2 linked regions of the Homo sapiens genome follow. The protein of the gene in region 1 interacts with the protein of each later gene in a pairwise test. Each region holds a gene or a part of one and is shown on either strand. Other genes may lie near its edges.

What was found.
Region 2: the proteins of TPPP (region 1) and VDAC2 interact in binary tests that used the Homo sapiens proteins (3 or more experiments, as listed by UniProt).

The regions. Positions count from the first base shown.
Region 1 is NC_000005.10:675,551-680,416, reverse strand, and holds part of TPPP (tubulin polymerization-promoting protein), read left to right. Parts: intron 1-474; exon of another isoform or gene 475-908; coding exon of another isoform or gene 909-1,105; intron 1,106-2,352; coding exon of another isoform or gene 2,353-2,356; coding exon 2,357-2,667; intron 2,668-3,800; exon of another isoform or gene 3,801-4,866.
Region 2 is NC_000010.11:75,220,074-75,224,939, forward strand, and holds part of VDAC2 (non-selective voltage-gated ion channel VDAC2), read left to right. Parts: intron 1-669; coding exon 670-897; intron 898-2,178; coding exon 2,179-2,329; intron 2,330-4,866. UniProt on the Homo sapiens protein: Non-selective voltage-gated ion channel that mediates the transport of anions and cations through the mitochondrion outer membrane and plasma membrane.

The sequences.
Region 1 (4,866 bases):
ACACCCACTGCAGGTGGCCTTGCTCCCCTCAGCCTGAGTGGGACAGTGGACGTGGGTATCCAAGTCCCAGCCTGAAGCATTTTTCCTCAGAACGTTTGAAGGCAGTGTCTGTCTTCAGTAGATCCGGCGATGGCCTGACCCCTGTTCCTTTCTGCCCTCTCCCCCACGGCCCCCACCGTGCTCTCATGCGTGCCATCTCATGCTGCTTGCTGTGCTGAGAGGGGCTGAGCCTAGCACAGGTGGTGCCTGCCCAGCAGGGGCGCAGGGGCCGCGGGCCGGACCGTTCTCACGCGTCGTGACTCCCACCCGTCCGCATCTCTGCTCACGCACATTCTCTTCCGCCAGGTCTGAAATCGCCTGCTGGCCTCCCTCTGACCTGCCTCAGTTTCTCCTCTTCACTCCTCGCTGCCTGATGTGTCATTGCTTATTTGTTTATCACTTGTCCCAACTGAAGGCCTCATGAGGGCAGGACGTTTTATGTCCCGCTCAGCCCTCCAAGGCCAACCTCCAAGCTTATCAAAACCTCATGCAAAGCACGTGCTGATGGGCTGGGAAGTCCTGCGTGAGCCCTGAAGGTGGCTCTGAGGGGCTTCCCTCATCCCTTTGCTCCCAGGCGGGCCCCACGGGGTGCAGGTTCTCAGATGACTCTCTGAGGTGTGTGAATAAGGGTCTCTGTTCAGGCGCGTCCCCACAGGAGATGAGACCACAGAACGCAGCCCTGAGTTTGAAGCATCCCAGAAGGTTCTTTCTCTCTGACCCGCACACCCACCACTGTTCTGGGTGCTCACAAAACCCACCATTGCTTCTGGTAATTTCTCAGCTGCTCCTCCTGTCCAGCGACCCCTGCTGCAGAGGCCCAGGGGAAACACAGACCAGGCCTGTGAGAAGCTCCTGTTTCAGACAAAGAAATGGTGTCAGCGATAAAACTGGAAACTGTTCCCAGCTCGACACCTGACCTGGCCCTTCCACCCCCAGGATCCTGCCCCCAGGCGGCCCTTCCACCCCCAGGATCCTGCCCCCACGCGGCCCAGCCCCCACCAGGATCCTGCCCCTGCATCCTCCGCTGGGTTGGCATCTGCATTTTTGGTGCCTTCCAGGGAAAGGGGTGAGTGGGTGGGGCCTGAGGCCCTTAAGGTCCTCAGTGGAGGGAGTGCCCCTGGATTTTTTTCTGGCTGTTTTGGGGGAATTTGTGGGATCTCAGGGTCAGCAGCGGCCACACTCAGGACCCCACGATTACAGAGCCACACTTTGGCCATGACTGGCGCTGAGAACTCCAGATCTGAGAGGGCTTCGTGAGTCCCAGGGTTGGGACACCTACCTGTGTCCTCGGCACGGACCCTCCCACCGGCTCTTGTGTCTGTGGGCAGAGGCCATGTTCAGCTCTCAGTGCAGTGCTGACGGCCCACCTGGTGTCCAGGCCCCTTTGGGAAGCAGCTTTCATGCCCTGAGTCCAGCACCTCAGCCTTGAGTCCTTCAGGGCCTGACTGGGTCTTACCGAAGCCCATGCATGGTAGGGAGGTGGCCTCGGCAGCCCTGCCCTGTGGCGTAGCCCTGCGTCCCCAAGCCCTGCCTGGGTGGCACCCCTCAGTCTTCTCAACCCCATGGCCCAGCCGCCTACTCTGGGGGCGGGCGCCTTGCAAAGTCCAGAGGGCGTCCCTGCGCCCTGACACCGGTGCCCCCACCACTGCCTCAGCCCTGCACACTGGCAGTCCCCTCCCCTGGCCGGGGCCAGGCCCAGGGCTCCTGGGAAGAGCATCCTGAGGCGCCCCCAGGGCCACCACGCACCCTCCCCAGCCTAAAGCTCCATCTAAGGTCAGAGGCTCTGCAGTGGGGAGGGAGCGGCTGTCGCACGACTGCTGTGGACCCTCCCAGAGGAAGGCAGCACGTCACAGACCCTGGGGAGTGCGTGATCCCGAGGTGTCCTCCAGAGCTGCAGAGCGGGCGTCCACAGGAGGGACAGTGGAACTGCGGCGGGGAGGGGACCCGGAATAGGCTCTGATGCTGCCAGTCACACACTGAGCCTCCTAGGCCTGGAGCCCCTGGCACCCAGCTCAGCTCCCACCCTGGGCTCTGCGTGCTGCTGGCTTTATTTGGCTTAGGGGGTCCTTGGCCCAATGATGGCAGTGGGCAAGGCCTCGCTTGGCTCCACTCTGCCCGGGGCTGGACATGCGTGCCTGCGGGGCAGCTGGCTCCAAGGGTCTGAGGGGCCTCACGCCCAGCCCCAGGAGGGCCTGCCCATCTCAGCCCTCGCCACGTCCTGGTGCTCATTGGTACGGCGGGGTTTCCTGGGCTGCACCCGGCTCAGCTGGGACATGGCCCGGGTGACACCTTTCTCCTCTCCTTCCTCCATAGCAACATGGCTGACAAGGCCAAGCCTGCCAAAGCTGCCAACAGGACGCCCCCCAAGTCCCCGGGGGACCCCTCGAAGGACCGGGCAGCCAAGAGGCTGTCGCTGGAATCGGAGGGTGCTGGTGAGGGGGCAGCCGCATCCCCTGAGCTCAGTGCCCTGGAGGAGGCCTTCCGGCGCTTTGCCGTGCACGGGGACGCCAGGGCCACCGGGAGGGAGATGCACGGCAAGAACTGGTCGAAGCTGTGCAAGGACTGCCAGGTGATCGACGGCAGGAACGTGACCGTCACTGACGTGGACATCGTCTTCAGCAAGATCAAGTGAGTGCGCTGGGCTCACGGGCCGAGGGACCTGACTTACGGGGGTCTGCGGCCCTGAGCCCCTGGGTGGGTTCTGTGGGGAGCGGGCCATGGGGAGTGGAGGGGGTTGTGCTTCAAGACCCCGCCCTTCTCAGAAGCAGCCCTGACATGGGAGCCTGAACGTGCCATCTGGGCCCCCAGGGAGCAGGGGTCCGGGCATTGCCGGACTTCTCGGTGCCGAGGCCTGAGTGGCAGCCCTGGCTCCTCTCAGCCCCGTGGGTGTGTAGGGTTTCGGCATGGGAGGTGGCCTATGAGGGGATGTCTGGCCTCAGAGCAGACTCGGGGTGAATGCTGCTCCCCGGAGTCAGGGAGCTGTGACTGGGATCACTGGGCTTCCCCAGGAGTGGGGGCAGTGGCTGCCTGGAGCCTGGAGGGGCAGGTGGCTGCTGGCGGGCAGAGCTCCTGACCCTCTGTGGGCTGGCTCAGCGGCTGAGTCTCAGAGGTTGGATGCTTGTGTCCCCATGCATGGAGCTGGCCATTCGGGTGTCCCCCAGCCCCTCCCAAAGCCTTTGTGCTGCTGTATTTCTGCCCCAGGATTCCCACGGGCGGCAAAATGGCAAAGGGCACCAAGGAGGCGGCTCCGGCCACCACCTTGAAACCGCATCGTGCCGTTTGCTTTTTCTGCGTCGTGTGCACGTGTGCGCGTTTCTGTGTGCACGTGTGTGCGTTTCCGCGTCGTGTGTGCACGTGTGCGCGTTTCTGCGTGTGCACGTGTGCGCGTTTCTGCGTCGTGTGTGCGTTTCTGTGTGCACGTGTGCGCGTTTCTGCGTCGTGTGCGCGCGTGCGTTTCTGCGTCGTGTATGCGCGCGTGCGCGTTTCTGCGTCGTGTGTGCATGTTTCTGCGTCGTGTGTGCGCGTTTCTGTGTCGTGTGTGCACGTGTGCGCATGTGTGCATGTGTTTCTGCATGTGCACGTGCGTTTCTGTGTCATGTGTGCACACGTCTGTTGCCGTGTCACGCATTGTCTGTTTTCTCCTGGATGAATGCTGGGAAGCACACTGAGGCACCCTCACACGCCCCAGCACATTTCACCTCATGTCCCGACACCCCACCATGATCGCACCCGAGAAAAGCAGCGGTTCTCCCTGAGCCCCGTCCTGTCCGCCTGTGTGGCAATGGCTTTATTTCGGTGGTTTGCACCTGCGTCCTCCTGTGGCCGATGTATTTCATTCCTACATTGCCGCAAACTCATCACCTCTTTCATCTCAGAGCTCCTGCACCTTCCCCCTCTGCGGCCTTGGCTTTGCAAGGGGCCGGGCCGTGGGTCAGATGCCCCTGTGTGGAAGGCTGTGGGGCCCACCTCTGCGGCGCCAGCGCCCCATCTACCAGCTCTGGGTGGGCGCCGTGACCTTTGCAGCTGTTCCGTCTCTGCTGTGCTCCGTGGCGATGTCACATGTGTCTCCCGGGTCACACATCCCCTGGGTCTTGGGTGTCTCCTGGGTCGTGCATGTTCCTAGACTGCGTGTCCTGCTGAGCTTCCTGTTGTGTACGGCGCATCTGAGTGCATCCGAGGGCATTTGGGGTTTGGAAAGTTATGCCAGAAAAGCCATGAAACTGCTCAGAAGGATGCCTGAACCCGGACCCTCTCTCCAGCTGACTGCCTTGCAGGCTCCCCCAGCTCTAGGGGACGGCAGAGGCAACCAGGGCCAGCGAGTCCTGTTCGTCTTCCTGACAGCTCCCAGCCTCAGTCCCAGAGAAGCTGGAGGGGAGGCTCCATCCAGGGCCCCGGGTGCGAGCTGGTCTCATCCTTGACCCTGTCCAGTCCCAGTGGCCCCGCCAACCTCCTCTGTGGCTTCCCAGCCTCAGTGTCCTCATGGGCTCAGCCACTGGCCGGTGTGAGAGGAGGCTGTGGCTGGCCCCTCTGTGTAGGTAGTCATGCAACCTTGTGCTCCCCGGCCTCGGAAAGGGCCATCATTTGCCAACACCTTAGCGGTTGGAGCCCACACTAACCCAGGACCACTCATCCCTGGGGCCCCTTGAGACCAGGAAGGCACAAGGAGCCTGCCAGAGCAAGGGGACCAGCAGGGGCCCAACAAGGGCTGGGGCTCAGCCCTCGAGGGTCCGTCCAACAGCCTGCACCTCTGGCACTGCACTCCCGGCCACACTGTACCCCCCATGCTGCACCCCTGGCCACACCGCACCCCCAGCCACACTGCACCCC
Region 2 (4,866 bases), on another chromosome or scaffold:
CCTCAGCCTCCCAAAGTGCTGGGATTACAGGTGTGAGCCACCGCTCGCAGCCTGTTTGTTTATTCTCTGTCACCCAGGCTGGAGTGCAATGGTGCGATCTTGGCTCACTGCAACCTCTGCCTCCTGGGTTGAAGCGATTCTCCTGCCTCAGCCTCCTGAGTAGCTGGGATTACAGGCATATGCCACCGTGCCTGGCTAAATTTTTTTGTATTTTTAGTAGAGACGGGATTTCACCATGCTGGCCAGGCTGATCTTAAACTCCTGACCTCAGGTGATCCGCCCGCCTCAGCCTCCCAAAGTGCTGAGATTACAGGCGGGAGCCACCATGCCTGGCCCATATCTGCTTTTAGAATACTATGGTTGCTATCATTGGCTTGCCTTCAAATATTTGCCTCTTTGTTGTTGCACTAACTTGGGCAACTAATGTGTTTCTAACAGGCTTTTGTGACTGATTGTTTGTTCTGCAAAGCAGTTTTCCTAGATGGCTGTCCAGTTGCTTCATGTGTCCTTGTCTTGTAGTTCATTGAGCTGACTTTTTTACTCCCTGTTATTGTATTGCTGATTTTTACTCCCTGGTCATACTGCAGTTTATTTAAGTCTGTTTTGTGCTCTCTTGTGCAGAAGTGTGTGTAAATTTTTCCCAATGACATCAGTTTGTTCTTTTTCCAGAAAGAAAAGTGGTAAAATCAAGTCTTCTTACAAGAGGGAGTGTATAAACCTTGGTTGTGATGTTGACTTTGATTTTGCTGGACCTGCAATCCATGGTTCAGCTGTCTTTGGTTATGAGGGCTGGCTTGCTGGCTACCAGATGACCTTTGACAGTGCCAAATCAAAGCTGACAAGGAATAACTTTGCAGTGGGCTACAGGACTGGGGACTTCCAGCTACACACTAATGTGTAAGTATTTCTTTCATAGGATACTGTGATGTGGGCCCTCAGAGGATGATTTTGATGTCTGTCATCTTATTGATCTGGGTGCACCCTAAAGGATTTCTCATAACATTTAAAAACAAAATCATTCTTGGTCATTTCTAGGGTGCCCCTTGAAAGTTTATAGTAGAAGACTGTTAGTCTGACCTTTGGTGCTGAGAGAGTAAATGTTCATTTTATATGGGGTTTAATGTGCTTTGTATTTTTACAAGAGGCATTATATATTGGCAGACTGCTACCAGTACATTCATTTTACTTAATTATTTTGATGTGTGAGATGCTGACTTGATAGGATTGCCTAAAATGTATGGTGTTTTGTGGTTGGGTTTTTTTTTCTTTTTCTTTTTTCTTTCTTTTTTTGTTTTGGTTCAGACAGAGTCTTGCTCTTTTGCGATCTCGGCTCACTCCAACATCCGCCTCCCGGGTTCAAACAATTCTCCTGCCTCAACCTCCCAAGTAGCTGGGACTACAGGCGTGTGCCACCATGCCTGGCTAATTTTTGTATTTTTGGTAGAGACGGGGTTTCACCATGCTGGCAAGGCTGGTCTGGAACTCCTGACCTCGTGATCTGCCAAAGTGCTGGGATTACAGGCGTGAGCCACTGTGCCCGGCTATTGTTGTTTTTTTGTTTGTTTGTTTTTAATTATTTTTGTAGAGATGGGGTCTTGCTATGTTGCCCAGGCTTGTCTCAAACTCCTGGCCTCAAGCGATCCTCCCGCCTCAGCCTTCCAAAGTGTTGGGATTATAGGCGTGAGCCACTGCATCCAGCCTGGTGTTTTTACCTAGCCCAAACTAGATAGATACATAGAAAGTACTTAAAATGTTTTTCTTTCCATTGTAAAAATTCATTGGTAAATAACAGAAGCACAAAGAAGAAAACCTACGTTTCTTACAATCATGCCAGCTAGGTATATAATCTTTGTTAATGTTGTGGTTCACCTTTTTATATGTGTGTGTATATATACTTATATATAAAATACGTAACCAAAAGGCTGTTTGAGAACCTCTTGCATGTTTAATACAGTGTGATAATTCCACTGAATGGATATTCTGTGGTTCATTTTACCAATCCCTGTATGGGTATGGGTTGGGGAAAAAAACCTGTTAAAACTTGCAAGTTTTCAGTGGAACACTAAAGACCCACTTGAGCTGTGGTTTTTTATTTAAATGTAATGCTACAAATCAGCCTGTGCCTTAGACATTATTACATTGTCTATTCTAGATCTACTAATTTAAAATATCTTATAGCAATGATGGGACAGAATTTGGAGGATCAATTTATCAGAAAGTTTGTGAAGATCTTGACACTTCAGTAAACCTTGCTTGGACATCAGGTACCAACTGCACTCGTTTTGGCATTGCAGCTAAATATCAGTTGGATCCCACTGCTTCCATTTCTGTGAGTACTTTTGTGGACTTAGAATGGGGGTTTTGGTTGTGGGAATGAGTCTTTGGGTATACTGAATTATGTTGAAAATTTGAACTGATTTCACACAGTCCCCAGTTTACAGATAGATTAGTTTTAGATTTTGAAATGCGCTTTTTTGATGGATACAGTGTTAGACGTTTTATTTCCAGGCCAGGCTGGTGGAGTTTGTTTAACCTCAAAAGCTGCCGAGTTAATGTTGATGATAACCTTGAGCCATAGGCCTGTCTAAGTCCAGGTATAGCTGGTGTTTGGTCCCTGAGTGGTTCTTACTGTGTCAGAAATAATAGTGCTTTTTTAAGGCTCTCTGTTGTCGAGGCTGGACTGCAGTGGCACAATCACGACTCCCGGCACCTTGACATCCTGGGTTCAACCTCAGCCTCCTACTATTCCCAACTAATTTTTTGATGTTTTTTTGTAGAGATGGGATCTCCATATGTTGCCCATCCTAGGCTCAAGCTATCATCCTGTCTCAGCCTCCCAAAGGAGGCTGTTGGGATTATAGGCATGAGCCACTGCACCTGGCTAGTATTTTAATCATCACTTTGTCTTTTTTTTTTTTTTTTCTTTTTTGAGATGGAGTCTCTGTCGCCCGGGCTGGGGTGCAGTAGTGCGATCTTGGCTCACTGCAACCTCCGCCTCCTGGGTTCAAGCAGCTCTTCTGCCTCAGCCTCCTGAGTAGCTGAGATTACAGGTGCCCGCCACCACACCTGGCTAATTTTTTTGTATTTTTTAGTAAAGATGGGATTTGTTGGCCAGACTGGTCTCAAACTCCTGACCCCAAGTGATCCACCCGCCTCAGCCTCCCAAAGTGCTGGGATTACAGGCATGAGACACCACAGCTGGCCGCCTTCTCCATTTCTAATTGCACTACAGCAATAAAAACCTCAAGATTCATACAGTACACTATTCTGTTACTTACATTGATGTTCTTGGATGTCTGTGGCATTTTAACAGATTTAATGTAAGTGGAAGAAGCTTCTCTCAGCTACTAGGAGTTCATAGTTAAAATGGGAAGGCAGCTTGGGACCCCTGTGTCATTTAATGACTCCTGGGAATTAGTTTGGAAATGTACCTAGCCTTTCCCACTTCAGTAATGTTAGCTGCCACTCCAATTCAGCAGTACCCAGAAGCATTGCTTAATGCTCCTTGTGATATTAGGAAGTATATATTTGGTTCTCCTTCCCTCTCCTGGCATAGAACTCCTAAAAAATCCTTGGAATCCCGAAAGTATTAAGTATCTTTTTGTATGCTAATGAGTTTTGACTGGTGGCTGGCCACCTTTAGGTAGCTTCGGGCTGGAGGCTAGTCAGTGGAGAGACCAAGGTGTGATTAGAGGGGGTGGGGAGAGGGGCTGTAGGTTTAATTGTTCACCAATGGCTAGTGGTTTAATCAGTCATGCCTGTATAATGAAGCCTCATGAAAACCCACAAGGACAGAGGTCAGTGAGCTAGGTAGCTGAGGTTACTGGAAGGTGGCATGTCTGGAGAGGGCATTGAAGCTGTGTCCCTTCCTATGTTTTGCACTGTACATCTCTTCATCTGTATCCTTTGTAATATCCTTTATTAAAACTGGTAAATGTAAATAAAGTGTTTCTTGAGTTCTGTGACCTGCTCTAGGAGATTAATTGAACCCAAGAAGGGGCTTGTGGGAACCTCTGTTTAGAGGTGCCAGGTCAGAAGCAGAGTTAAAACAACCTGGGGCTTGCAGTTGGCATCTGAAGTGGGAGGAGGGCAGTCTTGTGGGACTAAGCCCTTAACCTGTGGCATCTGATGTCTCCAGGTAGAATTAGAGGACATTTAGCCAGTGTCTGCTGCAGAAATTATTGCTTGCTTGGTGTGTGAGGAAAGCCCTCACACATGTGGTCACAGAAGCATTCTGTGTTGTGAGAGAATAGTAGGAGAAACTGAGTTGGTTTTTTTCTGTATCCTCAGAATTGATGTCAGGATTGGGATTTGCTAGAGTGGCTCTAGCTAGAGTGGCTCATCGAAGCATGGTTTAGGAAGAAAAAGGATAAATGGATGGGAAATGAGGAACTTTTGACTCCTGGGTGGTCAGATGGTCACCCCTGCTATGGAGCCACAACTGTGCTGTGCTCAGGTACTTAAAAATTACCAGTGGAATTCAAAGATAGATCCAACTCCAAGGGAGTTGGTTCACTGGGTGCATAAGGAAACGCAAACAATAAGAAACAAACAAAATATACAATCCCTTGATTATTGTTATTTGTGATAGCTAAAATCAAAGTGAAAGAGTGCTGGATTGTACCTTGATGCTAGACCAAGCTCAGGTTTCATTTGGTTTAAGCCTTGGCCACCAGCCTCAAAGCCACCTTGCAAGGGTAAAAAGTACCCCTAAGACCTGTATTTGCTGTATTTTGCCCAGTTTGGAGAAATTTAAAAAGTCAGAAGTTAGAGATTACATTGAGAAATGTGATCTGAAATTGCCTGGGGCAGTAGTCAGGCTTATTAATCAAGATAAAGGCTGACAAATGGGGAAGGGTAGATTTC